Regions from separate parts of the Homo sapiens genome. Here regions 2, 3 and 4 are each reported to be linked to region 1. Evidence: microRNA targets listed by miRTarBase, many of them from high-throughput screens and not tested one by one. Region 1 holds a microRNA gene; each other region holds the end of a gene's coding sequence. Distances are from middle to middle.

Evidence for each region. Region 1 holds the annotated microRNA hsa-miR-3929 (GAGGCUGAUGUGAGUAGACCACU, at 2,937-2,959, shown strand). A microRNA usually pairs through its seed, bases 2 to 8, with sites in the 3' UTR of a target mRNA and lowers its output. Matches are read on the target gene's strand: a 7mer-m8 pairs with bases 2 to 8, a 7mer-A1 pairs with bases 2 to 7 and ends in A, and an 8mer does both.
Region 2: the mRNA of EIF4A3 is a reported target of hsa-miR-3929. Seed matches in the 3' UTR shown: 7mer-m8 at 6,233-6,239.
Region 3: miRTarBase lists RNF125 as a target of hsa-miR-3929. Seed matches in the 3' UTR shown: 7mer-m8 at 3,136-3,142, 7mer-m8 at 3,401-3,407 and 7mer-m8 at 4,230-4,236.
Region 4: miRTarBase lists ABHD15 as a target of hsa-miR-3929. The part of its 3' UTR that is shown has no 7-base or 8-base seed match.

What each region holds. Positions count from the first base shown.
Region 1 is chr18:35,929,099-35,937,046 of GRCh38, reverse strand. MIR3929 (microRNA 3929) reads left to right here and starts at 2,905; the gene lies at 2,905-2,959.
Region 2 is chr17:80,128,816-80,136,763 of GRCh38, forward strand. It overlaps EIF4A3 (eukaryotic translation initiation factor 4A3), which reads right to left. Exons shown (of 12, transcript NM_014740.4): 10 at 7,413-7,520; 11 at 7,189-7,316; 12 at 5,554-6,691. The coding sequence ends at 6,675. Among named protein-coding and RNA genes, the nearest start is that of EIF4A3, 14 kb to the right of the region's middle. RefSeq lists a silencer at 4,743-4,908.
Region 3 is chr18:32,067,021-32,074,968 of GRCh38, forward strand. It overlaps RNF125 (ring finger protein 125), which reads left to right. Exons shown (of 6, transcript NM_017831.4): 6 at 1,278-6,199. The coding sequence ends at 1,364. Among named protein-coding and RNA genes, the nearest start is that of RNF138, 21 kb to the right of the region's middle.
Region 4 is chr17:29,555,495-29,563,442 of GRCh38, reverse strand. It overlaps ABHD15 (abhydrolase domain containing 15), which reads left to right. Exons shown (of 2, transcript NM_198147.3): 2 at 357-2,896. The coding sequence ends at 882. Among named protein-coding and RNA genes, the nearest start is that of ABHD15, 7.6 kb to the left of the region's middle.

The DNA.
Region 1 (7,948 bases):
TACAGATAAGCTAAAGTGGTTCAGCTAATGTCAGCATTCAAGGGCCTAAACTTCCCAAACTGACTACAGCTGCTCTAGAGCTTACTTACTACTGCTAGGAAAAAGCGTCATACCTCCCAGCAAACATAGATATTTTTCTTTTTCAGATAGTAAGATACAGGTTGAGTTGAGTATCCCTTATCTGAAATGCTTGAAACCAGAAGTGTTGCAGATTTCAATATTTTTCAGATTTTGGAATATTTGCATTACATTTAGTTGTTCAGCATCCCTAAGTCAAAAAATCTAAAATTGGAAATGCTCCAATGAGCGTCTCTTTTGAGCATCATGTTGGTACTTAAAAAGTTTTGGATTTTAGAGCATTTCAGATTTCAGCTTTCCAGAGTAGGGATACTCAACCTGTAATAATTTTAACCTTGGCTGACAGAATGCTCGGAGCTAAATTGTATGTTCCAACCTAAGAGTTATACTTCACTGATGTTTTCTGATATATCCATCTTTTCCCCTGGATAATTAACTCTTATTTTATTATCCTAATATATAGGTATTTTGTTGTAAGCCATGTGAAATCCTTATAGAAGTAAGCAGTGCGTGAGTAGAAAATGATGCGTGAATTATTAGAGGTGTCATTGCCCCATGAAAATATACAACCTATGTTGGTTATATAGTCGTTCCTGAACACAACATCTTTCAAGGCCAGGATTTCTAAAACTCATTACATGAGTAGTTGGTAGTTTCCATTCTCTTTTGTTTAATATTTCAGAGGATATGTAGTATTTTAGTGAGGAGGTTTTGGGTGCAGGGTACTAAAAACCTAATCCAATGCACAGGTTTGAACATTAGATGGGATTCACTAAGTTTTTGCGACACAAATGCTTGGTGGGCTCCAGGTGTGGTTTGATCAGGGTTCTGGTTCTGTCTTAACTTCTCTTAGTTTCTCTTGCCCTGTGTGGGCTTTGTCTTCAGGCTGGCTTTCCTCGGCAGGGCAGGCCTGCCAGTTGTCTCTGATGAAGACATACTCTCTCTGCAGGAGTTCATCCCTGAACAAAATACCACAGCAAGGGGAGTGGGGGATGCCCTGATTGGGCTAGACTGGTCAGGCCCGGGCTGATGCTGGGATGCACGGGGGAGTCAACCCCACACAAAACCCAGGTGCTTCACAGTGGGGGTGGGGTGGGGTGGCAGACAGGAAGGGAGGTTTATTCTCACTCCATTGACAAGGCTGATGAAAAGAACCACTAGGAGAAGAGCTACTATAAAACTCTGCACATATAATTATTAGGGATGAACAATGCCAGGTTGTGCTTGATGGGCCTTCTAAGTCCTTTTGGAGCCCTCTCACTTTCTGGTAAGCCTTTAGACAAAATCTGCTTTGCGATGCCTCTAGAATGGGGCAGGTGGAAAGCTTCCTGCAATTACATTCCTTTTATATAATGTTTCTCCACCAGAGGTTTGCAGTTTTATAGGATTCACCTGCCAATTGGCAACTGATTTGAGACACGTTAGTGCATCAGCAGAAGTGGGGGACATGCCGAGGGAGCAGCCTGGTGCTTGGCGGAATGTATCCTCTAATCACTTTTCGCCAGAAAGACCCTTAAAGCAATTATACGCTTCTGCAAAGAGAACTGGAAAAGGGTTCTGGATACTTTCTCCTCTTAATTAACCAAAGAATATGCCAATTCTTTTTAGAAAGTAAACTTTTTTCCCTAGTAACTATATTGTCCCATATCTGGTTATAATTTGTGTCTGAAGTAAGTAATTAATAGAGGACTGCCAGAATTTATGAGAATAAGAAACCCCATGAGTTCACGCGTGCACACACACACACTCAGAGGACATTGATATAGTTTGGATACTTGTGCCCTACAAATCTCACGTTGGAATGGCAACCCCAATGTTGGAGGTGGGCCTAGTGGGAGGTGTTTGCATCACAGGGGTGGATCCCTCTTGAGTGGCCTGGTGCCATCCTTGCAGTAATGAGGGAGTTCTTGCTCTACCAATTCGCCCAAGATCTGGTTATTTAAAAGAGCCTGAGACTTCCTTCTCTCTCTTGCTCCCTCTCTCACTACGTGATATACTGGCTCCCCTTCACCTGCTGCCATGATTGGAAGCTTCTGAGGCCCTATGCTTCCTGTATAGGCTGCAGAAGCATGAGCCAAATAAACCCCTGTTCTTTATAAATTACCCAGTTTCAGGTATTCCTTTATTGCAAAGTAAACAGTCTAAGAAAACTGCTGTTTTCTTTACTTGTAATGTGCTTTTCACTGCCTAGCTAAAAGGAGACAATGGCCTCTGTAAAGCACCTTGTCATGGACAAGTGATGCTGGCATATCATTATAATTGTGACCTATGAAATCTTTGCCTATTCTCAGGTTTCAAATATTTTTCTCCTGACAGTTCTATATAGTATACCCTGCTTATCTGCTGGGGACATATTCCAAGACCCCCCAGTGGATACCTGAAACCATGGATACTAAAGAACTGTATATATACTGTGTTGTTTTCCTATATGTATTATTATAAAGTTTAATTTATAAATTATATTATATTATATATAATATTATATTATTATAAAGTTTAATTTATAAATTAGGCACAGGAAGAGATTACAGCAAATTATAATAAAACAGACAATTATAATGATATGCCAGCACCACTATTCTTGCACACTGGGGCCATTACGAACTAAAATAAGGGTTACTTGAACATCAGCACTGTGATGTCACGGCAGTTGATCTGATAACCCAGATGGCTACTAAATGACCCATAGGCAGGTAGCATCTACAGTGTAGATCCACGAGACAAAGGGATGATTCACATCCTAGGAGGGACGGGACAGATGGCCTGAGATTTCATCATGCTACTCAGAACAGCACACAATTTAAAACGTATGAGTTGGCCAGGTGCAGTGGCTCACACCAGTAATCCCAGCACTTTGGGAGGCTGATGTGAGTAGACCACTTGAGCCCGGGAGTTCAAGACCAGCCTGGGCAACATGGCGAACTCCTATCTTTACAAAAAATACAAAAATTAACCAGGCGTGGTGGTGCATGTCTATAGTCCCAGATACTCAGGGGGCTGAGGTTGGAGGATTGCTTGAGCCTGAGAGACCAAGGCTGCAGTGAGCCAAGACTGCGCCATTGCACTCCAGCCTGGGTGACAGAGTGAGATTCTGTCTCAAAAAAATTTTTTTAAAAAGGGATGAATTATTTATTTCTAAAATTTCTCTTTTAGTTTTTTGGATGTGAGTGGATGATGAGCCACATGTCCCTTTGGTTGGCTGAGGGTAACTGAAACCATGGAAAGCAAAACTGTGGTTAAAGGGGGACTACTATAATTTTAGCTGTATTATGTTTAGGTCTATCATCCATATTGAATTAATTTTGTGCATGAGTTGAGATAGGAATTGAGATTCATTTTCTTCCCCATATGGATATCTATTTTTCCAGCATCATTTCTAGAAAAGCGCTTACTTTTCCCATTGGAGCTTCGGTGGCTTTGTCAGTCATTAAGTAACCTTATAGGTGTGAGTCTAGGTCTAGGCTGCCTGTTGTGTTTTATTCATGTATTTGCATAAACTTGCTTTGTGTACATTAGCTTGGCTACTGGAGCCTCAAACTCAGGTTGTGGAAGTCCTCATATTCTGTCTTGTCAGTATTAATTTAGAGATCCTAGGACCTTAGTATTTCCATATAAATGTCAGAATCAATATGTCAGTTTCTCTGAAAACTTGACCTAATTATCAGTCAGATTGCATTGAATCTATAGATCAATCTGAGGAGACTGTATATTATAAAAGCATTGGGTTTTTCAACTTATGAACATGAAATGCCTCTCCATGTATTTAGGTCTTCTAAATTCATAGTTTTCTGCATAGAGTTATTAAATACCTTTTGTTAACCTTATTTCTAAGTATTTAATGTTCTAGATATCATTATAAATAAAATTGGTTTTTAAACTTTTTTTTTGCTGGTAGTAAATCGAAATATAATTGATTTTTTCAGATTGATCTTGTATTCTGTGACCTTGCTATTTTTACATAAATTCCTCAGGATTCTCTTTGCAAACAATGATGTCATTTATACACAAAGGGAGTTTTACTTCTTAATTTTCAATCTTTATGCCTATTATTTCATTTTGTTTTATTTTACTGCCTAGGACCTCCAGTACAATGTTGAACAGAAGTGGTGACAGTAAACATTTTTAGCTTGTTCTTGATAATAAAAGAGGACAATATTTCACCATTATCATAAATGGCAGTTGAACTTAGGGAAATAATGTTTCTGCTTATGAAATGATTACATATTTGTCTTCTCTTTCGTTTTGTTAATATGGTGGATTACATTGACAATTTAATATGTTAAATCAACATTGCACTCTTGTGATACACCTACTTCTTCATGGAATATGAACTTTTGCATGTATTTTTGTATTTGATTTGCTAGTAGTTTGTTTAGGTTCATGAGGGATATTCTGTAGTTTTCTTTTATTGTAATATATTTGCTAGTTTTTTGGTATCAAATTTATATAGGCCTCATAAAAGTGATTCAGACAGTGTTCTCTTCTCTTGTGTTTTAGAAAGAGTTTGTCTATATTTGATGTCATTTCTTTCTCAAATGTTTGACAGAATCAACAAAGAAACTATCTGAGTCTAGAATTTTCTTTGTGTGAAGATTTTTGATAATACGTTCAATTTCTTTACTAAGTATAAGGCTAGTAACATTTTTTCATTGTGTGTTATTTTTATTTTTCAAAGGATTATTCCATTTTATCCAAATTGACAAATTTATTGGCATAAAGTATTCATATATTGCCTTATTATGTTTTAAATGTCTATTGGCTCTATACTGGTGTCCCTGATTTCATTCTTGATATTGCTAATTTGTGTCTTCTTTTTTCCTTTCTTCGTCCAGGTAGAGGTATATAGTTTTTATTCGTATTTTTAAAGAACCATATTTTGGCTCTGTTATTTGTCTGTTGTTTGTCTGCTTTCTCTTTCATTAGTTTTGGCTTTATTTTCTCATGCCTTAGCATTTCTTATAATGTAGATCTGCCAGCAATGAACTCAGGTAGTTTTTATTTGCCTGAAAATATTTTTCTTACTTTCATTCTTGGAGAATATTTTGTTTGGATATCAAATTCTAGGTTGACAGTGTTCCCCCTACCCCCGCACTTTAACTGTGTGGTTCCATTATTTTCTGGCCTATGTTTATCTGATGAAAAGTTGGCCATCATTTATATTCTTATTCCCTTCTACGCAATTTATCTTTTTTTGAGATAGGGTCTCCCTCTGTCACCCATGCTAGAGTGCAGTGATGTGATCTCAGCTTACTGCAACCTTCACCTCTCAAGCTCAAGCGAGCCTCCCACCTCAGCCCTCCAAGTAGCTGGGACCACAGGTGCATGCCACCACACCCGGCTAATTTTTTTATTTTTAGTAGAGATGGGGTTTTGCTATGTTGTTCAGCCTAGTCTCAAACTCATGAGCTGAAGCGATATGTCTGCCTCAGTCTTCCAAAGTGCTGGGATTACAAGCATGAGCCACCATACCCAGACTTTAATTTATCATTTTTATTTGGCTGGTTTTTTTTTTTTTTTTTTTTTTTTTTTTTTTTCACAAATGGGGGTCCACTATGTTGCTCAAGCTGGTCTCGAACTCCTGGCGTCAAGCAATCCTCCCACCTTAGTCTCCCAAAATGCTGGGATTATAGGCATGAGCCACCATGCCCAGCCAATAATTTTTTTAACCTCTGATTTCAGAAGTTTGATTGTAATGTATATGCACACATACACACACACATATGTGTGTATATATATATATGCATGTAGAGATATACATGTGACATTGACAATTTTAATATGTTAAATCAACATTGCATTCTTGTGATAAACCTACTTGTTCATGGTGTTTTTTCTGAATATATTTTTGTATTTGCATATATATTTGTATTTGCATATTTTTTGTATGTATCTCCACATAGCATATATGTGTGTGTGTGTGTGTGTGTGTGTGTGTGTGTGTGTGTGTATATATATATATATATATATATATACATATTTATTTATTTCACTAAATTTGGGGACATTTTGGCCCTTGTTTTTCAAAAAACCTTAATTTTTGCTTCATTCTTTCTCTCTTTTTTTGGAGACCCAATTATATTTATGTTATACCTTTTGATATTATCCGATAGGTTAAATTTTTTTCTTGAGATTGAATTATGTTGATTAATCTTTTTTTCAAAATCACAGGTTCTTTCTTCTAACATTTTCAATATTCTATTAAGCCCATCCAGTGAATTTTTTATTTTACATGTTGTAATTGTGAGCTTGGTATATTTAATGTTTCTATTTCTCTGCAAAGATTTCCTATTTGTCAATTCATTAGGAGCTTATTTTCTTTGCATCTTTGAACATAGTTTCATTTGCTGCTTTAAAAATCTTCATCTGTTAAATCCAACGTGTTGGTTATATTAGGATCAATCTCCATGGGCTGCCTTTGTCTTTTGTATATGGAGTGCCATTTCCTGTTTGTGTGTGCATGAGTGTGCACACACACTCACCTGTATGTCTAGTGATTTTTATTTTATTCTGGACATTGTGGACAACGTGCTATACAGCCTATGGCTTCTCTTATGGTTCCTCTGAAGAGATTTAAATTTTTGTTTTAGGCCAGGTGCAGTGACTTACACCTATAATCCCAGCACTTTGGGAAGCCAAGGTGGGAGAATTACTTGAGCGCAGGAGTTTGAGACCAGCCTGGGCAACACAGGGAGACTTCCTCTCTACTAAAAATTAAAAGACAAGTTAGACATGGTGGCATGTACCTGTAGTCCCAGCTACTTGGGAGGCTGAGGCCAAGGATTGCTTGAGCCCATAAGCTTGAGGTTGCAGTGAGCTATGATTGTGCCACTGACCTCCAGCTTGGGTGACAGAGCGAGACTTTGTGTCAAAAAAAAAAGTTCTATTTAAGCAGAAAATTAACTTGGTTGAACTCAAATTCCAAAAATCTGTCATAGCTGTGGTGAGAAACAGCTGACATTTTGTCTAATTCTTTTAGTCTTACATAGGCTGCTTGAAGTCTGTCTCATACATGCATAGTTCAGGGGCGTTGAGAGATTTACAGAGTTTATATTCTGAATTTGGAGCTCCTCTTCCATGGCTCTCTCCTTTTAATGCTTTCTCTCAGCACTTTTCAGCTGTGGTGATAGCTCTGAGTTTTATCCTTTGATTTCCCCAAGCCAGTAAGACTGCAAGTTTCTATTTGATTTCAAGATGCCCTGGGAGGTGCCAACTGGGATCTTGCTGCCTTCAGGCAAGAAGCTGTGAAAACAGAAAACTCATTAGTGTGGGTCACTTCTTTGAAGGGCAGACTCCTGTCCAGTTTCTGTTTTCTTTTGGTCCCCTTTCAGTGCCTTTAGATTGTTATTTTTAGATAGTTTTAAAAAATATTTCTTCCAGAATTTGTAGTTGTTATCTGCAGATTGGTCTTACACAGACTTCCCTACCATTACCATGTCAGTTGTCTTTTGACTTTGTTCATGATGTTTTTTAACATTCAGACATCTTTTATTTTTATAAATGTAAATTAATCAATATTTTCTTTTATTGCCTCTGGATTTTAGGTCACAGTTCTTTCTTCACACCCAAGTTAAACAGAAATTCACCTATGTTTTCTTCTAGTGCTTGTATGGATTTGTTAAAAATTTTTACGTTATTTTCCTAATATATTCAGAGTTTGTGTATAAAGTGTGAGGTATAATTTAATTTTATCTTTTTACAAATGGTTAATTAGTTGTCCCAAGGCTATTTATTAAAAAGTCCATCTTTGTCCTAATGATATGAGATGTAACCTTTATTGTATTCTAAATTTCCATGTATACTGTGGTCTATTTTGAAATTTATATTCTATTCTGTCCACTCACTGGCATCTCACTGTTTTAATTAAAGAGGC
Region 2 (7,948 bases), not on the chromosome of region 1:
GCAATAGTATATAGTTGTGTATGGCTTTATAATCCAGCCTAACAATATCTGTCTTTTAATTTTGCAGTAGGCAATTTGCTTGTTTTCCCTTGCTCGTGCTTTTTGCTTTTTAAGTGTAATTTTAGAGGATGCATGAGATTCCTCATGATATTTGTGCTGAGATGTAATTCACATGCCATAACATTTACCATTTTAAAGTATGCAATTCAGTTGTTAGTACACTTGTACAACCATCACGATTATCTAATTCCAGAACATTAGAATCACCTTCAAAAGAAACCCTATACTCATTTTCAGCCACTCCTTGTTTCACCCATCCCCCTCCTCCCCCCTCAAGCTCCTGAAACCACTGTGAATGGTTTCCTGCTAATCTCTCTATGGATCTACCTGTTCAGGACGTTTCATGTAAATGGAATCACACCACGTGTGGCCTTTTGTGTCTGCCTTCTTCCACCTAGCATATTGCCGAGGTTCATCCAGGTTGTAGTGTGTCAGCACTTCATGCCTTTTTATTGCCAAGTAATATTGTGTGGATTCACCAGTTTTGCTTACAGCTGATGAACATCTGGCTTGTGTCCACTTTTTGGCTCTTATGAACAATGCTATGAACACATTAGGTTTATGTGTGCAGATTTTTTAATTCTCTTGAGTATAGACCTAGGAGGAGAATTGCTAGGTCAACTCCTATGTTCAACATTTTGAGGAACTGCCAAGCTGTTTTCCATAAAGGCTGTGCCTGTTTACAATCCCACTAGCAATGTATGGGGGTTCCAGTTTCTCCACATTCTCCTAAACACTGCAGAGCAGTATATTAGTCCATTTTCATATTGCTATAAAGAACTGCCTGAGCCCGGGTGCTTTAAAAAGGAAAGAAGTTTAATTGACTCACAGTTCAGTGTGGCTGGGGAGACCTCAGGAAACTTACAATCATGGTGGAAGGCGAAGACGAAGCAGGAACCTTTTTCACAAGGTGGCAAGAAGTGCCAAGTGAAGTGGGAAGAGCCCCTTATAAAACCATCAGATCTTGTGAGAACTCACTATCACAAGAATAGCATGGGGGGAACTGCTCCCATGATTCAATTACCTCCACCTTGTCTGTCCCTTGACATGTGGGGATTAGGGGGATTACAATTCAAGATGAGATCTGGGTGGAGGCACAAAGCCTAACTAACTATATCAATCAGTTTGGGAAAGTTATCTTCCAATCCATGAACCTGGGACATTTATATATTTAGGTTTGCAATGCCTTTCAACAAGCTATTTGTAGTTTTCGGTGAACAAGTATAGCCCTTCTTTTGTTAAATTTATTCCTACATATTTCACTCTTTTTGATGCAATTGTAAATGGAATTATTTTCTTAATTTCATTTTCAGGTTGTTCAGACTGCTAGTGTACAGAAACACTGGCTTTCCTATGTTGAACATATATTCTGCAACCTTGCTGACCTCATTTATAAGTTCTGATAAGTGATTTTTTAAATGTGTAAATTCCTTAAGATTTTCTAGGTATAAATCATGTCATCCGTGACTAGAGAGTTTTGATTCTTCCTTTCCGATCTGGATGCCTTATTTCTTTTCTTGCTTAATTGTCCTGGCTCGTAACTTCCAGTACAATGTTGGAATAGACGTGGCAAGAGCATTCTTGTTTTGTTCCCAACCTTAGCGGGTAATGCTGTGGTTTTTCATCGATGCTGTTTATCAGGTTGAAGCAGCCCCCTTCCATTCTTATTTTCTATCTTGAAAAGGTGCTGGATTTTGTCCAATGCTTTTTCTGCATCTGTAAATCATTATGTGGACTTTGTCCTTTATTCTATTGATAGGGTGTATTACATTGACAGATTTTTGGATATTAAACCAACTTTCCATTCCTGCGATAAATCCCACTTTGTCAGTGTACAATCCTTTTTATATGTTGCTGGATTTGTTTTGCCAGTTTTTTGAGGATTTTTACATCTATATTCATATGATATTGATCTAGTTTTTTTTGTGGTAGCTTTGTTTTGGTATCAGGTAATGCTGGCCTCAGGGTGAGTTGGGAAATGTTCTGCCTTATATTTTTTGAAAGATTTCGTGATCCAGCACTTTGGGAATCTGACGGGGGCAGATCACAAGATCAGGAGTTTGAGATCAGCCCGGCCAACACAGTAAAACGCCGTCTCTACTAAAAATACAAAAAATTAACCAGATGTGGTGGCAGGCACCTGTAATCCTAGCTACTGGGAGGCTGAGGCAAGGGAATCACTTGAACCCAGGAGGCGGAGGTTGCAGCAAGCCAAGATTGTGCCACTGCACACCAGCCCAGGCAACAGTGTGAGACTCTGCGTCAAAAAAAAAAAAAAATTGTGATGGTGATAATTCTGTAAAAGTTTGGCAGGATTCACAAGCCTTGGCTTTCCTTTGTTGAAAGTTTGGTTACTGATTTAATCTGTTTGTCCTAGGAATTTCTCCATTTTATCAAGGTTCATCTGTTGGCAAACAATCCATGGCACTGATACTTTGTATTCTGTACAGTCGGCTGTGCCATCACCTCTTTCATTCTTGATTTTAGTTATTTGAACCTATTTTTCCTTAGACTTGCTAAAGATGTGTCAATTTTGTTGATCTTTTCAAAGAATGAACCGTTGGTTTTGTTGATTTTCTCTATTATTTTTCTATTCATTTATTTCTACTCTCATCTTTATTATTTCCTTTCTTCTGCTTCCTTTGGGTTTAGCTTGCTTTTCTTTTAGTTTGAGGTGAGACAGACAATCTGCAATAAATGTAATTATTGACACGGTTGTTTTCAACCTACTACCGTTTTGTATTTGTCCATCTCGTAAGTTCTCTGTTCCCTTTTCCTTCCTTTTCAGGATTCTTAGATTAAGTATTCCTTAGAACTCTTATTTTGTCTCCTACGTTGGCTGTTTATTTCTGTTTCACATTTTTGTATTGCTTTAAAGGTTCATACCTAAAAATTGCTTAACACTTTTATATATGTTTCACATCTTTAATTCATCACAATCTGCCTTCAAGTAATAGTGTAAGAATCTTGACAGTATACTTCCATTACTCCTTTCTTCGGTGCTGTGCTATTTTCGTCATACATTTTATGTCTATGTATTATTTTAAACAATCTTACTACAAAGAAACATGCCAACAGCATCAACATTACCATTCTATTTCTATACTTTAGACATACCTCAAAGGGTCAGGACACTCTAGCTCTTGGTTAGAACCCTTTTTATGTGGTTTTTCTTTTAGGAAAATTGCCTGGCTTTAAGACAAGGCATCCTATATGTATTTGTTGAATAAATTTCAACCACCCAAAAAAAAAAAACAAAACAAAAAAAAAAAAAATATACCATTAGGAGTATAAATTGGTGGAAAATCTTTCTGCAACGTTAATTTGAAACATGTACCTTGATCAAGAAAATCACTTCTAAAGATTATTCTGGGTGGGCACAGTGGCTCATGCCTAATCCCAGCACTTTGGGAGACCAAGGCAGGAGGATCACGTGAGGTCAGGAATTTGAGACCAGCCTGGCCAACATGGTGAAACCCCAACTCTATTAGAAATATGAAAAATTAGCCAGGTGTGGTGGTGGGCACCTGTAATCCCAGCTACTCAGGAGGCTGAGGCAGGAGAATCGCTTGAACCCAGGAGGTGGAGGTTGCAGTGAGCCGAGATCACACCATTGTACTCCAGCCTGGGCAACAAGAGCGAAACTCCATCTCAAAAAAATAAACAAATAAAAGATTATTCTAATTAATCTTCAACTGCTTCCAAAGGAGCCATGGTATAGAGGCTGGAAAAGTAGCTTTTTTTTTTTTAACGTAGTGAAATATGTATGATACATTACTAAGCAAAAACCTGAGTTAATAATGGCAAAGTGGGTTACAATTTTTGCTTAAAAAGGTCTTTATGTACAGGTAGATGTACAAGATAAATTAAAATACTGGATGGACAGTCATCAAATTGTGAGTTATATCTGGGTAGGAGGATTAAGGATGACTTTTTCAAATTATGCATTTGTATGTTTTTTTTCAGTGAGATTATACTTTTGTAATGAAGTACATAACCCAGGGGTTTTTCATCTGGATTTAGTTGCTGGGGACCTTGGGAAGCCCCTCAGGATCTAGAGCCAGTTTTTCCACCTGACCAGAGGCCCAGTGATACCTACCTAGCAAGGCTCAGCAGACCCCCTGCCTGAACTTGACTCCATTTGGACTCTGGGAGGATCCTGGCCCCAAACCACCCTCCCAAGAACCTCCATGAGTTCTCTACCTCTTGTATCCTTCTCTTCCCAGCATCACTGCAAATGTTCCACCCTGTCCCGCACCATGCCCCCATCCATGAGCACTTAGCATCCTTCCCTGGTATAGGCAGGAGCAACGCTGAACTTCCTGGAGAAGTCCACATTCCAGTCAGCTGTCTACAGCAGAACCACACACCACCAAAGGGAAATAGCATTTTCATCACTGACTGCCCAAGGGCCAGGCTGCTCTCCAGAAAGTCTGGAAACTTTCCTTGTCAACCTTTAGGACTGGTGGTTTTTAAATCTTGGATAATCACATACCATTTCTGATTTGTCAGTACAGTTTGACATTTTTATGAACACTTGTGCTGTATTTTTCCTTTTAGGATGACCTTTCCTAGACAGTGTGTGGGGTAGCTTAAGCCCCACCCCTTCTCCTGCCATCTCCTCCCCAAGGCACCAATGCTGCCTCCTCCACTGTAACACCACGTGCTTATTCATCTAGAATCATTCTTACTGGTAATGGAGGCCTTCCGTCCTCCGGAGTGACTGTGTGGAAACCTGAGCCACTCCTCACCTCTAACACAAGCCTGGCAGCAGCTCCTGATGAGACCAGGTGAGCCTCAGTGAGCTCAGGCGCCTGCAGATACGGACATTGAGGCTGGCACTGGCCAGAGCTGTGGTGGGCATCACTCCCCACTGCTGCTGAGCAAATGCCCTGAACACACCTGTATCTGGTTCCTCCTTGCCAGGAACTCATTAAGCTGCCTGGGCCTGTAGTCTCGTGCTCCTCCCGCTCGGCCAGCAGTGCCACCTGGGAGTCTTGTTACCTGCAGGTTCTCACTCAGCAAGCCAGGACAGGGCCCGAGCACTTGCATTTCTAACCAACTCCTGATGATGCAGCTGGTCTACCAGCCACCAGCTGGCTAGCAAGGGTCCAGTCACAGTTTCAGTGAAAGGAAGTTCCATTCATAAACTATAGAATTTCAGATGCCTTCAAGTAGAATCACCTGATGAAATTTAAAAATTATTTCCAAGCTCACCCTAACCCGGAAATAAAGATTATCATCCCAACTAATTTCAGGAAGGGAGGGGCCAGTTTTAACATTTCCATTTCAAATATTAGAGCCCGGTCTGTGGCTCATGTGTGTAATCCCAGCACTTTGAGAGGCTGAGGCGGGAGGACTGCTTGAAGTCAGGAGTTTAAGACCAGCCTGGTCAACAGAGGGAGACCCTGTCTTTAAAAACATTTAAAAAATTAAAAATTGGGCAGCTGTGGTGCTGTGTGCCTATAAAGCTACAGGTAATTACTTTAAATATTTCAACAGATAACTTAAATACTTTAATAATTTAAATATTTAAACAGATAATTATCTGTTTTAGTTTGTCAACATTGTGGTAAGTCATGATCCTGCCACTATACTCCTGCCTGGGCGACAGGGAGATCCTGGGCTCTCAAAAAAACAACAAAAAAAAAAAATTAGAAAAATGAGGCCAGGCATGGTGGCTCACACCTGTTATCCCAGCACTTTGTAAGGCCAAGATGGGAGAATCACTTAAACCCATGAGTGACAGACCAGCCTAGGCCACAAAGTGAGACCCTGTCTCTACAAAAAATTTAAATATTAGCCAGATGTGCTGGCATGCACCTGTAGTCCCAGCTACTCAGGAGGGTGAGGTGAGAGGATCGCTTGAGCCCAGGAGGTTGTGGCTGCAATGAGTTGTGATGGTGCCACTGCTCTTCAGCCTGGGCAGCAGAGCAAAACTCATCAACGATGAAACTCTTTCCAAAAAAAAAGATTAGAAAAGTGAGTGAAATGGGCCGGGTGCAGTGGCTCACGCCTGTAATCCCAGCACTTTGGGAGGCCGAGGTGGGTGGATCACGAGGTCAGGAGATCGAGACCATCTTGGCTAACACGGTGAAACCCCGTCTCTACTGAAAATACAAAAAAATTAGCCTGGCATGGTGGCGGCCGCCTGTACTCCCAGCTACGTGGGAGGCTGAGGTAGGAGAATGGCATGAACCCAGGAAGTGGAGCTTGCGGTGAGAGGAGATCACGCCACTGCGCTCCTGCCTGGGCAACAGAGGGAGACTGTCTCAAAAAAAAAAAAGAAAAAGAAAAGAAAAAAAGAAAAGTGAGTGAAATGACCCAAGACTACACAGTAAGTTACTAGAGAAGGTGGTGGCACCTTAGAAGTATAGAGTTTATGGGAAAAGTTTTAAATTTTTAATGAAAAAGACTTAGAACAATGTATTATTTACATGTAAATAAGAAAAGAGAGCAGAATCCCCATATCCTCTTCAAAGGAAGGGAGACGGCAGGCCATTTATGAGAAGAAAGTCCATATAAACCCCATTAAGTAGAATCTGGATCTAAATACTTCCAAACAGGAGTACACAGCAGGTGAACAGTCTCCCTCATCCCACTGATCTGCTGCTTCAGATAAGATCAGCAACTGAAAGTGAAGAAAGAAACAGATTAAGGAACAACACAAACAAAATGAAAATTTGTTAACGTAAATTTAACTAAAACCTCACAACAGACTTCTCAAAACAAAAAACAGGCCAGACATAGTGGCTCACGCCTGTAATCCCAGCACTTTGGGAGGCTGAGGTGGGCAGATCATTTGAGGCCAGGAGTTCGAGACCAGCCTGGCCAACATGGTGAAACCCCGTCTCTACTAAAAATACAAAAATTAGCTGGCTATGGTGCACGTGTCTGTAATTCCAGCTACTCAGGAGGCTGAGGCAGGAGAATTGCTTGAACCCAGGAGGCAGAGGTTGCAGTGAGCCGAAATCGCGCCACTGCACTCCAGCCTGGGTGACAGAGCGAAACTTCGTCTCAAAAACAAAACAAAAAAACCCACAACAACAAAAAAACAAACTCAGGTGCCCCAAACTAAGAATAGGGAAGTTCCCTCTACAATTACAGTAGAGCTGGACGATTTCCTACCGTTCATCGGCATCTCATCAATCTGAGTGGAATAGTACTGCTCGATATCTCTGAGGATGCGGATGTCGTCATTCTTTACAAAGTTAATGGCCACACCCTTCCGGCCGTATCGACCTGATCTCCCAATTCTTCAGGAATAAAATAATATTACAGTTAGTATATATAACAATCAAGATTTAGTAAATGTGTCACAGAAGTGAAGCCAATGAGAGCTTGCACCTTACCTGTGTATGTACAATTCTCTGTTATTAGGGAGATCATAGTTAATGATGAGGGACACCTGAGGGACATCCAACCCCCTGGCCCAGACATCTGTAGAAATAAGCACTCGGCTGCAAAAAGAAAGAGTGTTTGAGGCGATTAAATTACTCATACAAGTGTAAGACTGGACTTGCTTCCATTGCTAATTTTAAGGAATCCTGGCTGCAGGTCCAAAATATACGAGATTCTCCTCTCTCAACAGTCTGTCTGCAAACGTGAAGCCTCAGGGACAGCACCAGAAACCCCTGTGCAGAGGGGCTGTTGGTGGATTTAGTTACTTCGGTCATGTGCTCCATCAGATTAAAAAAATAGACATCTTTTACTAGACTATCTTTAACTTGTTTAATCGGTCCTAAACCAATAATTGGGAAAAATACTTCACTTTTGCCTAGCAAAAAATTAAAAACGGTAACTTCAGCCGGGCATGGCGGCGGCTTATGCCTGTAATCCCAGCACTGCCAGAGGCTGAGGCAGATGGATCACCTGAGGTCAGGAGTTC
Region 3 (7,948 bases), 3.9 Mb from region 1:
GATGGGCGGATCATGAGGTCAGGAGATCGTGACCATCCTGGCTAACACGGTGAAACCCTGTCTCTACTAAAAATACAAGAAAATTAGTTGGGCATGGTGGCGGGCGCCTGTGGTCCCAGCTACTCTGGAGGCTGAGGCAGGAGAATGGTGTGAACTCGGGAGGCGGAGCTTGCAGTGAACCGTGATCGCGCCACTGCACTCCAGCCTGGGTGACAGAGCGAGACTCCGTCTCAAGAGGTTTCTCTTTACCTTAGCTCTATGAGGTGTTCTAAAAGCCAGGTCGATTCTATGGCTGTTCTGTCTAATCATGCTCAGTCTGTTCTCAAGATCTTTCAGACAAAGCATGATCCAGAGCTAGGCAGGATGAAGCCACTTTGATAGGAATACTTTCCAGCCACTCACAGCCATATTCTTGGGTAGGGAAGTGAACTGGAAGTAGTGTTCTTTGTTTTGATTTTTTGCTTCCTGAGCTACTATATACTAAGCTAAGCACTATATGTATATATCACATTTTATTCCTTGTAGCAACTTCCGTGAAGTGAATACTGTATTTTTATCTTCATTTAACTGAAATATCTGAAGCTCAAAGGTTAACTGAATTATCTAAGAACAAGCCAGTATCAAGACCAAACCTTGTGTTCTGCTGTACTTTATGACTTTCCTTTGGATTTTGTGGGGGTTTTTTTGTTTTGTTTTTATATTGCAGAATGGACTTTGAATAGAGATTTCACCTTTTGTTATTGCGGAAGAGGAGAGGGATTGCAGAGGATAGGGTTCTTAATGGTTTTTGTTTTACTTATAGAATGTGCTGACATAGAATTTTGAATTCCACTTTGACACATAGGAGGCAAGGAGAAAGTTTTGTTTTTAACATTTTCTTCAGAAGTAGCCATTCAGTGGTACTGCTGGCATTGGTGAAGCCTGTGGGGGAGCCTGAACTTTGCTCCATTTTACAGGTTTATGTGGAACATAGCACTCTGACCAGGATTTGTAATGGTGACTAAAAACTTCTCATTATATCAGATAAAAACTTCAAATTTCAAATCAAGACTGTTTATTATGACAGTAACTAGTTAATCGATAGACAACAAAGTGAAGTAGAAAATTCATTAGCCCCAAAGCAAAAGTCCTGGGTTCTATGACAGGCTTTGTGGAACCTTGGACAAGTCTCGTAACTTTAGTTCCCTACAAAATGAGGGTGTTGCATTGACCCTCATCCTCTAGTTTCTGAAATACTATTGACTCTGAATATTTCTAATTATTTTTCTTTATTGTAGGATTTTAATATAATTGAGGAAGCTCTTATCCGAAGAGTCTTAGACCGGTCACTTCTTGAATATGTGAATCACTCGAACACCACATAATTTTATTAAAACGAAGGGAAAAGGGACCACTGAATTGCACCATTTAAGATGCTGCTTGAACAAATGGGAGGGAAGTTGTCAATGATTGATGGGCAAAAATGTACAACACAGTTATGTGTTTGTCCATGTTTATTGTTATAGTGCATTTAAAAACTGCTTTAATTTTAATGGTTTAAATCTGTTTTACATCCTTGAGATTCTTACACATCTAACAACAAAAAAAATTATCTACATCAGTCATTGTTACATGGAAAAGACAGGTGGTAGGCAAGTAGGTGGAGGATCTCGGTTTGCAAATTAGATAATACTCTGTGTATAATGCTACATATCAATAACTACCATCATGGTTAGGCACGATAACTAATCTTTGTTCTGTGTAAAAAAATATGGAGAGTGAAACAAAGTGCAGACATTCAAAGAAATAAGAAATCTGCTCCAATGCTCTTGTTCTAATCTCTAATAGGTTAACGTTAATAATCTTGTATGGGAGTTGGAAAGGAAAATTTTGGAAGTCAAGAAAGTCCATTTAGGCCGGACGCGGTGGCTTACGCTTGTAATCCCAGCACTTTGGGAGGCTGAAGCAGGCGGATCACAAGGTCAGGAGTTCGAGACCAGCCTGGCCAACACTGGTCTCTGTGAAACTCCGTCTCTACTAAAAATACAAAAATTAGCTGGACGTGTTGGCGGGCATCTGTAATACCAGCTACTTGGGAGGCTGAGGCAGAAGAATCACTTGAACCCGGGAGGCAGAGGTTACAGTGAGCTGAGATCGCACCAGTACACTCCAGCCTGGGTAACAGAGCTAGACTCCATCTCAAAAAAAAAAAAAAAAAAAATCCATTTAACCAAATTGTCTTACATAATACTGTAACAAAACAAATTTTGTGTTAGAAAAGTATACTTAATTCTTTGACTTTTTATAACTGCATACATAAGAATTCAATATTTTTCAAATATTTATAGCTTATTTAGAAATATTTCTATAATATAAGCAATTTCTTAAAAACCATCAGATGATACTTACAGTATAAGTATTCACATCCAGACTTTTTAGTAGAAAACCCTAAGGGCTTTGATATCTTTTTTGATTGTAACATTTTAAAAATTATGAAATAAAAGTACTGAAAACCAGACACAAAATTTATAGCTGAATGCCTTATTATAAGGAAATACTCTTTTAGGACTCAGCCAGTCACCCCACGTGTCCTTTTTGTGTCCTGTCACAATTACAACCCCACAAAAGTAACTGCTAGACTGATTTAAATGGTAATCACTTTGTTGCATTTGATTACTGCTGCCACACCTAAATGCATATATCTATATTTTAATATTATCAATTTAAAGTTGTTATTAAATGTATATTTTATTTTACATCTCTTTTTTAATCTAGAAGTTCCTCCTTCTTTCCAGTTCCTTAAAATTTACCTGGTGAAGAACCTGATCCTAGGACCTATAGAGTTTCCCATACTTTGTATTTTGCTGATTGCACACTCATGGCACGGTTCAGCACATTGCCCTGTCCTCTCGATATTAGCACACAGTGCAGGTTCAGGCACATTGAATTTGAGAAGACTTAGGTTCAGTCCTTTGGCAAGACTGTAAATCACGGTGTCTTTCTTTCCTTCCTCCTTCTTCTCTCTCTCTCTCTCTCTCTCTTTCCTTTTCTTTCTCTTTTTTTCAGAGTTGCACTCTGTTGCCCAGGCTGGAGTACAGTGGCACGATCTCGACTCACTGCAACCTCCATCTCCCGGGTTCAAGCAGTTCTCCTGTTTCAGCCTCCCAAGTAGCTGGGACTACAGGTGCACGCCACCATGCCCGGCTAATTTTTGTATTTTTAGTAGAGGGGTTTCACCATAATGGTCAGGCTGGTCTTGAACTCCTGAACTCAAGTGATCCACCAGCCTTGGCCTCCCAAAATGCTGGGATTACAGGCATGAGCCACCATGCCCAGCTAATTTTTGTATTTTTAGTAGAGACAGGGTTTCACCATAATAGCCAGGCTGGTCTCAAACTCCTTACCTTGTGATCCGCCCACCTCAGCCTTCCAAAGTGCTGGGATTATAGGCGTGAGCCACTGTGCCCGGCCTACAGGGTTTTTATCTAACCTTTCTGTTACAACTGTACCTCTCCTTCTGTACTGAAAGTCCTGGTTTTCAAGAACACAGGGCACGATAGAATTAGAACATCCCACAATTACTCATTTCTTTTATTTATCTTACACTTACAGCTGTCTCAGAATAACAATAGAAATACAACCACAAATAATATGGCAATTGAAACAATTAAAAAGTTTTCATTTGCTTTTCTCATTCTTTCCCAATTTTTTTTTTTTTTTGAGATGGAGTCTCGCGCTCTTGTTGCCCAGGCTGGAGTGCAATGGCACGATCTCGGCTCACTGCAACCTCTGCCTCCTGGATTCAAGCAATTCTCCTGCCTCAGCTTCCCGAGTAGCTGGGATTATAGGCATGCGCCACCACGCCCTGCTAATTTTGTATTTTTAGTAGAGTCAGGATTTCTCCACATTGGTCAGGCTGGCCTCAAACTCTCGACCTCAGGTGATCCGCCTGCCTCGGCCTCCCAAAGTGCTGGGATTACAGGTGTGAGCCACTGCGCCCGACATCCCAATTTTTAAAATAGTTATACTATGTCAACATTTTCAGAACATACTGGTATAGCATACTGTACTTTCTTCCTTTTATCCCCCATTTATTCTTAGTTCTTCAACTATATATTTAACACTTGCCCCCAGTTTTGTTTTGTTTTGTTTTGAGGAGGAATCTTGCTCTGTTGCCCAGGCTGGAGTGCAGTGGTGTGATCTTGGCTCACTGCAACCTCCGCCTCCCGGGTTCAAGTGATTCTCCTGCCTCAGCCTCTCGAGTAGCTGGGATTACAAGTGGGCACCACCACACCCGGCTAATTGTTGTATTTTTAGTAGAGATGGGTTTTGCCATGTTGGCCAGGCTGGTTTTGAACTCCTGACCTCAAGTGATCCACCTGTGTTGGCCTCCTAAAGTACTGGGATTACAGGTGTGTGCCACCGCGCCAGGCAATTGCCCCCAGTTTTTATTTGATGGCTCTGACTGTTTCTCATATCTGACTCTTTAATTATGAATCCAGGGCATAGATTAGTATCTCCATCTTGTAAGGATGCAAAGAAGCCATGAAAATAAGTAATATCAACTCCTGAGGATAAAACGTTACTTGACTAGAGTTAGCTTTTTAATTGTAATCATTTATAAACTTCTTTGTTCCTTACATATAAGCATAGTCATAACCATGGTACCCAAAATTTTCTATAAGTTATTGTAACTCCTTAAAGGTCTTGCTACAGTTCTTTTATCCAGTACAAATAATTGGGAAAATGTAAAGCTGAATGAAATCTAGTGAGCCTCATATCCTCCCTTTTAGATATTGATTTTAAGTTTGCTTTTCACAGCTGCTAAAAAGTAACAACTGATTTTTAGTTCCACAACCTCTCTTTCTTCAATTTAGATGGATCATACAATAAAGCAAAATCTGGCTGGTTACAGTGGCTCACACCTATAATCCCAGCACTTTGGGAGGCTGAGGTGGAGGGTCTCATGAGCCCAGGAGTTCAAGACCAACCTGGGCAATATAGTGAGACTCTTTCTATTTAAACAAAAACAAAAACAAACAAACAAACAAACAAAAAGCTGGGCATGATGCACACCTTTAGTTTCAGCTACTAAGGAGGCTGAGGTTGGAGGATCACTTGAGCCTAGGAGGTCAACACTGCAGTGAGCTATGATCATGCTACTGCCCTCCAGCCTGGGCAACAGAGCAAGACCCTGTCTCCAAAAACATAAATAATTAAATATAAATAAAAATAAAGCAAAATCTGTTGGGAAACGAGAAAAAGGAGAGGAATTTTTCAGGAATAATCATAAAAAGAAATGATCATCAGACTGAAAGTCCAGAGCCTGAGAAATGAAAACATATTTTTAAGCATTGGTGTTGACCATGCAGACAAACTTTTGTTAATTCAGAGCGATACAAAAGGCACTTTGAATCTATAAAACTTGAAAAAGTTAAAAATTGTATGTCGGATAAAGCTTTAAGTCATCTGTCACTATTAACCTCAGTGCAGCAATTCTGACTCCTGTGCCTGGATTCCTTTTATGATAATTTTGCCACCTACAGGACAGATTAGGTGCTGGTCGCCTGAATTATTTTGTGTTCTGAATTATTTTGAGCTCTAAAATGGTAAAGTACAAATACTCATTGTTTTACTGTGCCTTTGGCCTTTTATAAAAAGGTATTTATAATTCGTTGATAAAAACCAATATTTGAAGCTGTTGATTACCAACAAAAAAGTTTCACTCTCTTTATAGTGCTTCAGGATACAACTTTTTCAGGGCCTTATTAGAGAAAAACTGATTCACATGTTATTCTTCTAAAGCTAAATTATTAAAATGTAGGTTGAAAGATTGGATTGATTGTGAATCTACACTAAAGATATGGTTCCAGGCAGACCTCCTTAGAGACCTCCAGGCAGACCTCCTTACTGTCTTCAGTGATGTTTAATTTCATTACTGTTACTGGGTGCCAAGTGTCTTTCATTTGGAAGTGAACTTACTCCAGTTATTGAATGTTTATCATATCATAATTTGCATTTTTCCAACATTGAAGGTATTTTAAAAAGTCACTAAGAGATTCATTCTTTTATTATTCAACTACAAAAAAATAGTGTAATGATCAGAATTTAAAATGTGTGATTCTTTTTCTTCTGTAAGTATGTATTGCTATGATAAATAAAAAATGGCAGGACCATTGTTTTTATTAAAATATCTACTGTGTCTATTCTTAAACATTAATCTTGATTACTATTTTACTCAAATTTAATAATGCTTTTTAAATTTTCATCATTGAGCAACATCTATCACAAAGGTGTACATTCATTTAGGCCAGTACTTCTCAACTGGGGGTAATTTTGTCTCCCAGCAGACATTGGCAATGTCTAGATACATTTTGGGTTGTCCTAACAGGGCTTGGGTGTGCTAGTGGCCTGAGATCTAGATACAGGTCAGGGATGCTGTTCAGCATTCTACAGTGCACAAGACAGCCCCTTGCAACAAAGAATTATCCTGCGCAAAATGGCAATAGTGCCTAGGCTTAGAAACTCTGATTTGGTCAACATAATACTGAGCACTATGGATTTATTATTTGTTCTGCTAGCAAGAGGCTTCACTGAAATTTAAAAGGTAAGATGTAGATAGATTCTTCCCCCTGCTAAATCCATACTAAGTTTTGAATGGCTGTAGCTGTCATGCGTACCCATATGTCATGAGCATATTAATTTTTTGATTTTTTGCAAGAACACATACAGGACAGAACACAAGTGTTACTGACGAAACCTCTGATGCCTGTTTGCTGAGTGACGTTCTAGATGATTGAGGGAACCCAGATCAGTTGAGAAGATTTACCTTCATCATTTAGATTATCTTTATTGAAATAAGACAAAATATTACAGAGGGACACTCATGTCTGAGATCCTTGAAGCTAATAGTTATGTTTTTGTATTATTACTAGAAAATCGTGTGGTATTTTAATCCTAAAGATTTCAGCAAAGACAATGCATGGATCTTAAGGCTAATCATTGCCACCAAAATAGCCATGTAAGAAGCCCAACGAAGGAGAATCACAGGGAGTAGTATTGATCTAGGTGAACTGGATTATGGTACAATTACAAGTCCCAAATCCCAGTGCTCACCCAAAGTCTACTGTGGTTCCTGGCTCTTCTCCAGGGAAGCTGTTCTCCAGCTTCAGAATTCCAGGGTACTTTCATCTCATGGCATTTGTATATCACTGTGTGTTCCTATATCACCCCTCGCAACAGGCTGCTGAGTTGGCTACACAGGTAATTTCTGTTCATTATTTGCCAATGCAAGTCACATGGCCATATGTAATGTCAAGGCACTGAGGAAATCCAGTCTTCTCATGTAGAAGACAACTGGATACTGAGGCATAATAGTAATACCAACCATGAAGGTACAAGCCAGGCAGAGTTGACAAGACAGGAAGTACACAGGGTAAAGACATTAAAAATATGTGTGGAAAGGAGGGGTGAAAAGTCAAAATGAGACTAGCTTTCTAAAACATGAAGTCATGTTCATTTTTGCCATGGTAGTATTTTCTTTTTCTTTTCTTTTTTTTTAGAGATGGAGTCTTGCTCTGTTACCCAGGCTGGAGTGCAGTGGCACGATCTCAGCTCACTGCAACCTCCACCTCCCAGGTTCAAGCAATTCTCCTGTCTCAGTCTCCTGAGTAGCTGGGACTACAGGCATGCACCACCATGCCCAGCTAATTTTTGTATTTTTAGTAGAGACGGAGTTTCACCATATTGGTCAGGCTGGTCTCGAACTCCTGACCTCAGATGATCCGCCTGCCTTGGCCTCCCAAAGTGCTGGGATTACAGGCGTGAGCCACCACGCCTGGCCCTGCCATGGTAATATTTTCATTAATTTTACTTAAAGTTTGGGATTATTTTACAAAATGAAAGAACTGTCAGTTTCTCAGACATAAGATAGTGATTTCTTTTTTTGAATTGTTCTTTCTTATTTATT
Region 4 (7,948 bases), not on the chromosome of region 1:
TCCTGAATAGCTGGGACTGAGCCACCATGCCAAGCTAATTTTTTTTTTTTTTTTTTTTAGAGATGGGTTTTCGCCCTGTTGCCCAGGCTGTTCTCAAACTCCTGGACTTAAGTGATCCACCCACCTCGTTGGCCTCCCAGAGTGTTTGGATTACAGGCGTGAGCCACCACAACCAGCCTTATCTGGTTTTAAATGATGGCCATGAAATTAAACGTTTTCGAAGCCCTAAATGGCCAAAGAAAGCCTCTGTGGACAGATCTGGCCTGCGGGCTGTCTGTCTGTCTCATCTGCTGTCACCTGATGTTCTCATTCTTCCCTCTCTTTCCCACCTTCCCCACTAAACACCTCGCTGCCAGGTATGCCACAGCCCTGGAGGACACTGTGGACACCAGCAGACTGTTCAGGAGCCGTTCCCTTCGAGAGTTTGAGGAGGCTCTCTTCTGCCACACCAAAAGCTTCCCCATCAGCTGGGATACCTACTGGGACCGCAACGACCCGCTCCGGGATGTCGATGAGGCAGCCGTGCCTGTGCTGTGTATCTGCAGTGCTGACGACCCCGTGTGTGGACCCCCAGACCACACTCTGACAACTGAACTCTTCCACAGCAACCCCTACTTCTTCCTCCTGCTCAGTCGCCACGGAGGCCACTGTGGCTTCCTGCGCCAGGAGCCCTTGCCAGCCTGGAGCCATGAGGTCATCTTGGAGTCCTTCCGGGCCTTGACTGAGTTCTTCCGAACGGAGGAGAGGATTAAAGGGCTGAGCAGGCACAGAGCTTCCTTCCTTGGGGGCCGTCGTCGTGGGGGAGCCTTGCAGAGGCGGGAAGTCTCTTCCTCTTCCAACCTGGAGGAGATCTTTAACTGGAAGCGATCATACACAAGGTGAAAGACCTGGCCTGAGAACCCCCAAGTCCTGCAAAGAAAAACAGAGCTGGGCAAGGGGGAGTCCTGGAAAGATGGGGCGGACTGAACAGAGGGAGCTCCAGCTCTGTGCTCCTCATTCAGTCCCTCTCTCTTAAATTGGTGCCTTGAAAGAGAAGGAACGTCCTGCGAGCCTGCACTCACTTCATCCTCAGCAGAACTCCTGCCTGGCCTCTGCTCAACATATCCCTACTCATCCGGTCAGCAGCGGCGCGTTCCAGTCACTGTCACCTGTCACTGACATCACAAGCCAAAGGATAGCACTTTTTCAATCCATGGACTCAGGAGAAAATGCCCTCTTACTGGCAGTGGCTAGAGGGATGAGACGTTTGTGTATGTCACTGGGCAGTGACCCCGATTCTCAAGCTGGAGCCATTTGATGTCATGAGGACAGGATGTTTGTGTCTCGGCCCCACTTCCCTCATTTGCTCTGTGGTTGTGGCGCCCTGCTTTGACCGAATGCTCTGGCAACTGCGGCAGCAGGCTTGTGTGTGTGAGAAGGGCGGCAGAGGCAGTGGGGCTGGCTCGCTGAGGGCTGAGCAGGTAGAGAATGTGAATGTCCATCTCAAGGAATGCGAAGTTCCAATCTCTCAGAGGAGCTCTGCAAGTCTCAGCTAGGAATGGGGCTGATCTGGCCCCCAAGCCTCACTGGAGAGATCCCAAGGGTATTTTACAAATAGGAAGCGCTCTCATGCAGGATCTGAGGGCTTTGCTAGACCATGGTTCAAGGAGTCAGAATCTTGGCTACCCTACATGCTCCCTCTGGCACCATTTCAGGGGATTACTCCAGAGAGCTGCAGCCAGAACTGTTTATCTCCTGAGATATGGACTTTCTCTAAGTCAGGAAAAGCACAAACCTCATAACTTAGGTGTTTTCTGGTTGGTTGCTCCCTTTTCTGATCCTACTACTGGCCTCTCCCTTTCCAGAGCCAGGAGACACATCTGGGACCAGAGGAAACAAAAGCACCAAGAGGTTGACTAGAGCTGACCAGTGATTTACAAATATTTCATATTCCAATGCTTCGTCTGCTCAATTATTCAAAAGGCCATCCCTGTAAAGGCAGAAAAGCTTCCTCTTAGATCTGGCCACTCAGCAAATAAGTGGGTATTTGGTTTTATGAAGAATAATGCTGAGGACTAGAGATATAGTATATCAGAGATAATATATAGTATACAGGTTGATCTAAATATTCTGGTTTGGATTAGGCAATTAAAATTTTTTTGGCAACAGGACATATGTTTCCATGTGTTGCTAAGATTCAAAAACTTTGCCCTGAAGTTTTATTTTAATCGTCATTGAGAAAGAGGGCTCCTGTTCTGACCTCAAAAACAGCAAAGCTGTTGTAAAGAAGAGAGCTGCTTATACGAAAACCCACATTCCAAGACTTGGTATAAGGTATTCCTGAGGCCTTGATTTCAGGTTTGGATAATCTTGCCCCAGATTCTAGATCTTGTTCTTCTAGATCAAATCAGAAGAAACTTTGAAATAACTCCAAGAATCTGCACTGAAATGTAGACAGCACTCGATAATCTAAGGGACATTATCTTGTTGTGAAAAATTATCTCCCTCCTGGCTGGGAGCGGTGGCACACACCTATAATCTCAGCACTTTGGGAGGCCGAGGTGGGTGGATCACGAGGTCAGGAGATCGAGACCATCCTGGCTAACACAGTGAAACCTCATCTCTACTAAAAATACAAAAAATTAGCCGGGCGTGGTAGCGGGTGCCTGTAATCCCAGTTACTCAGGAGGCTGAGGCAGGAGAATGGCGTGAACCCGGGAGGCGGAGCTTGCAGTGAGCTGAGATCGCACCACTGCACTCCAGCCTGGGCGACAGAGTAAGACTGTGTTTCAAAAAAAAAAAAGAAAAGAAAAATTATCTCCCTTCTCCCCACTTCTTGTTTCTCCTCCTCCATATTCCTCATCTGACGTTCTTTTGCCGTTTCTAAGCAGGATAAATAAAAAGGAACTGAAATTAAGCTGCTCTACTGCCGGTGAACAACAGCCTTGGTGTAAGCCTTGGTGAGGGAGATTTACTGCCATCTGGCCATCCGCTACCACCAGCTGCCCTCCACATCTGGTACAGTGAGGATTTCAGTTAATTAGGGTCCCGTAGTCCCAGTTGCCCTGCAAAATGGGAAGCAGCCTAGTGGTTTTTAAACCCTAAGGCTTAAAGAGTCCCTAAGGGTGAAAATCTGCATAGTTTCTCTAGAAACTATCCAGATAATGCAAGATTCTGGTTCTTCAAGAGAATAGCTTTTGGAGAAATAGTGGTTGGTTTTCCTTTCCCTTTTGATAGGAAAGAAAGTTTTCCAGGGAGAGAAATGTATAAACTTTGTAGTTACAGTCAGAAGAATGGCAGAATCAGCCCCAGTTCACGTTCCATTAATTCCTTTGAACCCTGAACTCTAGTGACCCGAACCCTAAAGTATTTCTCTTCCGTGGCCCTTGTGCCAGATGCACCCACTGCATATCCCAAGAACATTCTCTGATTTTCCCATTACTACTTGAAGACTAGGGCTGAAATGCCTGTTTTGTGCTGAGAAAGTGTAATTTCTGTTCAAGCAGGAAAGATTTGGATGGCCCTGTCCTTTAGCCTAATGATTCAAGAATCACACAGGTGAATTCTGCTTTGGTAAATAGCTAATTGTGTGAAGCCAGCTGGAGGAGCCCCAGGCACACTGTTCTGTGAATGGGTGGCCCTTGAACAAAATGGCAAGTTATGAGTTTGAGGAAGCAAGAAACAAACAACAAAACCAAACAATAGGCGGGGCACAGTGGCTCTCACCTGCAATACCAGCACTTTGAGAGACTGAGGTGGGAGGATCACTTGAGGCCAAGAGATCGAGACTAGTCTGGCCAACATAGCAAAACCCCATCTCTACAAAAAATTAAATTAGCTAGGCATGGTGGTGCACCCTGTAGTCCCAGCCACTCGGGAGACTGAGGCGGTAGCACTGCTTCAGCCCTGGAGGTCGAGACTTCAGTGAGCCCCTCCCGAACACCTAAGAACCACTGAGTTGGACTTTCCAGGTGGTGGGTCTTCAGTAATCTTCAGGCCTCATTACTTGCTTGCCTCCTTTTTGGTGTCCGTTATTTACCAACACCTTCAAATGGTAAGATAAAAAAATGAATACAAATAAGGAAACGAGCCAGGTGCAGTGACTCACTGCAAAGTGCAGTAATCCCAGCACTTTGGGAGGCCGAGGCAGGCAGATCATTTCAGTCCAGGAGTTCAGGACCAGCCTAGCCAACATGGTGAAATTCCATCTGAGTGTGGTGGCACACGCCTGTAGTCCCAGCTACTTGGGAGATTGAGGTGAGAGAATCGCATGAGCCTGGGAAGCAGAGGCTGCAGTGGACCGAGACTGCGCCACTGCACTCCATCCTGGGCAACAGAGCAAGACCCTGTCTCAAAATCATAATGAAAACAATAAAGCAAAAACAAAAAGCCAATGACTAAAGGGAGGCATTAATTCAGAAGTGGCAATTGAGTCCTCTGTCTCTAGCCATGGATCAGAATGCAGAAAGCAGACAACTGCTTCTGAAATTTTCTGTGAGTTCTAAGTTCTGATCTCTGATATCAAGATTGTGCTAAGCTATAACTTAATTCTCATAATTTAGTATTTTATGTATTTATACATAGATTTCCAGGGTGGCTTGGCTGGAGATGACAGTATGAAAAATACAGCACTAAATTCTCTGAGAAGACATCATCTCTGTTTTGAGTGACGATATCCTAAGACTTGGATACTGATAGAAAATAGGTCTTGGCCGGGCGCAGTGGCTCACGCCTGTAATTCCAACACTTTGGGAGGCCGAGCCGTGTGGATCACCTGAGGTTGGGAGTTCGAGACCAGCCTGACCACCATGGAGAAACCCCGTCTCTACTAAAAACACAAAATTAGCCAGGTGTGGTGGTGCATGCCTCTAATCCCAGCTACTTGGGAGGCTGAGGCAGGAGAATCACTTGAACTCGGGAGGTGGAGGTTTCGGTGAGCCAAGATTGCGCCATTGTACTCCAGCCTGGGCAAGAAGAGCAAAACTCCGTCTCAAAAAAAAGAAAAAAAGAAAGGAAATAAAGAGAAAGAAAAAGAAAGAAGAAAGAAAGAAGAAAGGAAAAAAAGAAGAAAGAAAGAAAAAGAAAGAAAGAAAAAGAAAGAAAGGAAGGAAGGAAGGAAAGAAAGAGAAAGAAAGAAAAAGAAAGAAGGGAAGGAAGGAAGGATGGAAGGAAGGAGGGAGGGAAGGAAGGAAGGAAGGAGGCCTTGGCCAGGCATGGTGGCTCACACCTGTAATCCTAGCACTTTGGGAGACTGAGGTGGGTGGATCGCTTGAGTCCAGGAGTTTGAGACCAGCCTGGGCAACGTGGTGAAAACCTGTCTCTACAAAAAATACAAAAATCAGCTGTGTATGGTGGTGCATGCCTGTAGGCCCAGCTACTAGAGAGACTGAGGTGGGAGAATCACTTGAGCCTAGGAAGTCAAGTCTGCAGTGAGCTGTAAACATGCCACTGCACTCTAGCCTGGGCAGCAGAGCAAGACCCTGTCTCAAAAAAAGGAAAGAGAAAAGGTCTCAAAACAAGGAAGTGTCACCTTGGCTTTATACATAACCTCAGAACCACCTAGAGTCAGAAACTCCTCTGTACTCATCTTCCATCCCAAACCACAAGGTCCTTTCTCAATCAGTCACCTTTAGTAATGAATGCCAAGGTATCTTCCTTTAGAGATGAATTTTAGCATGAATTCCTCTCCCTGCTTAAACAAGCAGATACACTTGGCCACTCTGGTAGAACTTGGTAACAATGCCAATAAAAGGAGTATTTGTGATTCTTCAGTCAAGCCAGAAAGGATGACACCAGAAATTGCTTTGACTCATTATCACAATTTGCAGAGATAAGAGTGCATTCAGGAAGGCTTGAGAAGTTATACATAGGGAGTGTCCAAGTACTCAGAGATTAAATGAATGCCTCAGGAAACAGTAAGTCTCACATCATCAGTGGGATATTCAAGCTAGACTGCCCCTTGGCACATATCATGGAGAGAACATGTGGCAAGAAATGAGGATGAACTAGATCAGATATCCAGTTTCTTCTCATCTAAGGTCTGTGAATTAAAATAAATAATGCTAATGATCTTAGTGTTTGTAACAACTTAAGGTGGGTTTCTGGGCTCAAGGATCAGAAAACCACAGACCTGACTAGGATCCTGGGAGTTGAGAGATAACATAAATTTTAATGAAAATAACCCTGCCAAAGTGACCAGAGTGAGTGTGTGTGTCTGTGGTTTTTGTTTGTTTGAGATAAGGTCTTGCTCTGTCACCTTGGCTAGAGTGCAGTGGTGCAATCTTGGCTCACTGCATCCTCAACCTCCTGAGCTCAAGCAATCCTCCCGCCTCAGCCTCATAAAGTGATGGTACTACAGGCATGAGCCACCACCATTCCCAGCCCAGAGTGTTTTGTTTTGTTTAGAGAAAGGGTCTTGCTGTGTCACCCAGGCTGGATTGCCCAGTGGTGTGATCATGGCTTACCACAGCCTCGACCTCCCGAGCTCAGGTGATCCTCCTACCTCAGACTCCTAAGTAGCTGGGACTACAGGTGTGCACCACCATGCCTAGCTAATTTTTGTATTTTTTGTATAGATAGGGTTTGTTACTATGTTACTCAGGCTGGTCTCGAACTCCTGGGTTCAAGGGATCTTTTCACCTCGGCCTCCCAAAAGTCTGAGATTATAGGTGTGAGCTACCACACCTGGCATCAGAGTATATTTTTAAGATAGCCAATGATTATGCTCTAGTCGCACTTGCTCAGAGGAGCTAAAGGTTTTTTTTTATTGTTGTTTGTTTGTTTGAGACGGAATCTCGCTCTGTCGCCCAGGCTGGAGTGCAGTGGCACCATCTCGGCTCACTGCAAGCTCCGCCTCCCAAGTTCACGCCATTTTCCTGCCTCAGCCTCCCGAGTAGCTGGGACTACAGGCGCCCGCCACCACGCCCGGCTAATTTTTTGTATTTTCAGTAGAGACGGGGTTTCACTGTGGTCTCGATCTCCTGACCTCATGATCCGCCCACCTCGGCCTCCCAAAGTGCTGGGATTATAGGAGTGAGCCATCGCACCCGGCCGGAGCTAAAGTTTTGAAGGTAAAATGATACTTCATTGAAACAATAAGACACTCATGCATCAAAAGTAAGTCTCTAGTCCCTCTAGTCTTACCTTGTAATAATGCAATACCTTGCCTTAGTATTTAGTATGGTTGAACAAAAAATTTCTCTCCAACTTATTTGTCTCTGAATAGTAAATCAGTCTCCCAGTAACACTGGAATGTTATTATTTTTTAAATCTCCAGAAACAAATATGTGCTGTTTGTCTTCTGAAGTCTTCTGTGTACTAAGCCATGCTTGCCTACTGTGGCGTTTAGCAGAGCCTCAGTGCACATTCTCTAGCCACTGGATGTTGCCTCACTTTTGTAGATCTAGCCTCGTGTGGCCTAACACTAACCAGCAGCAGCTCTGTTTAATCAATAACCAGGTCTCCTGTTCTGGGCTAATAATTTCCCAGCAGGCGCACAATTCCCTGATCATTGATGGTGCCTACAACAAATATATTATTCAGTGGGCAAACAGTGTTTGTGTGTTGATAGGATACTGAAGTAATAGTTTGGAGATGTGGGTTCCAGTTTCTACTTCATCTATGACTTAAGTGACCCTGAGAAAGTTATTTTATGAGTTGTTCCATATGAAAAGACTGGGAATGTGTATAGGCCTTAATTTATAAGGTCTGTTAGGATATAATGAGATACTTAATAGCAAACAGATCCCATTCTCCAAGACTCTAATTCCTCAGCCATAGCTCAAAGACCTCCATGATGAAGGGGCATCTGCTTTCAAATCACAGTCTTTATTCTCTGATCAACATCTTATAAGGCTAAGAAGTTCCAGTTATTAATTGCACTGCAAAGTTGGGAAGGGCCTGGAAGAGCAGCACCTTTGAGCCTCACAGGTTGGGTTTGGGTTGCCCAGTTGAGGACAAACTCTCCCCA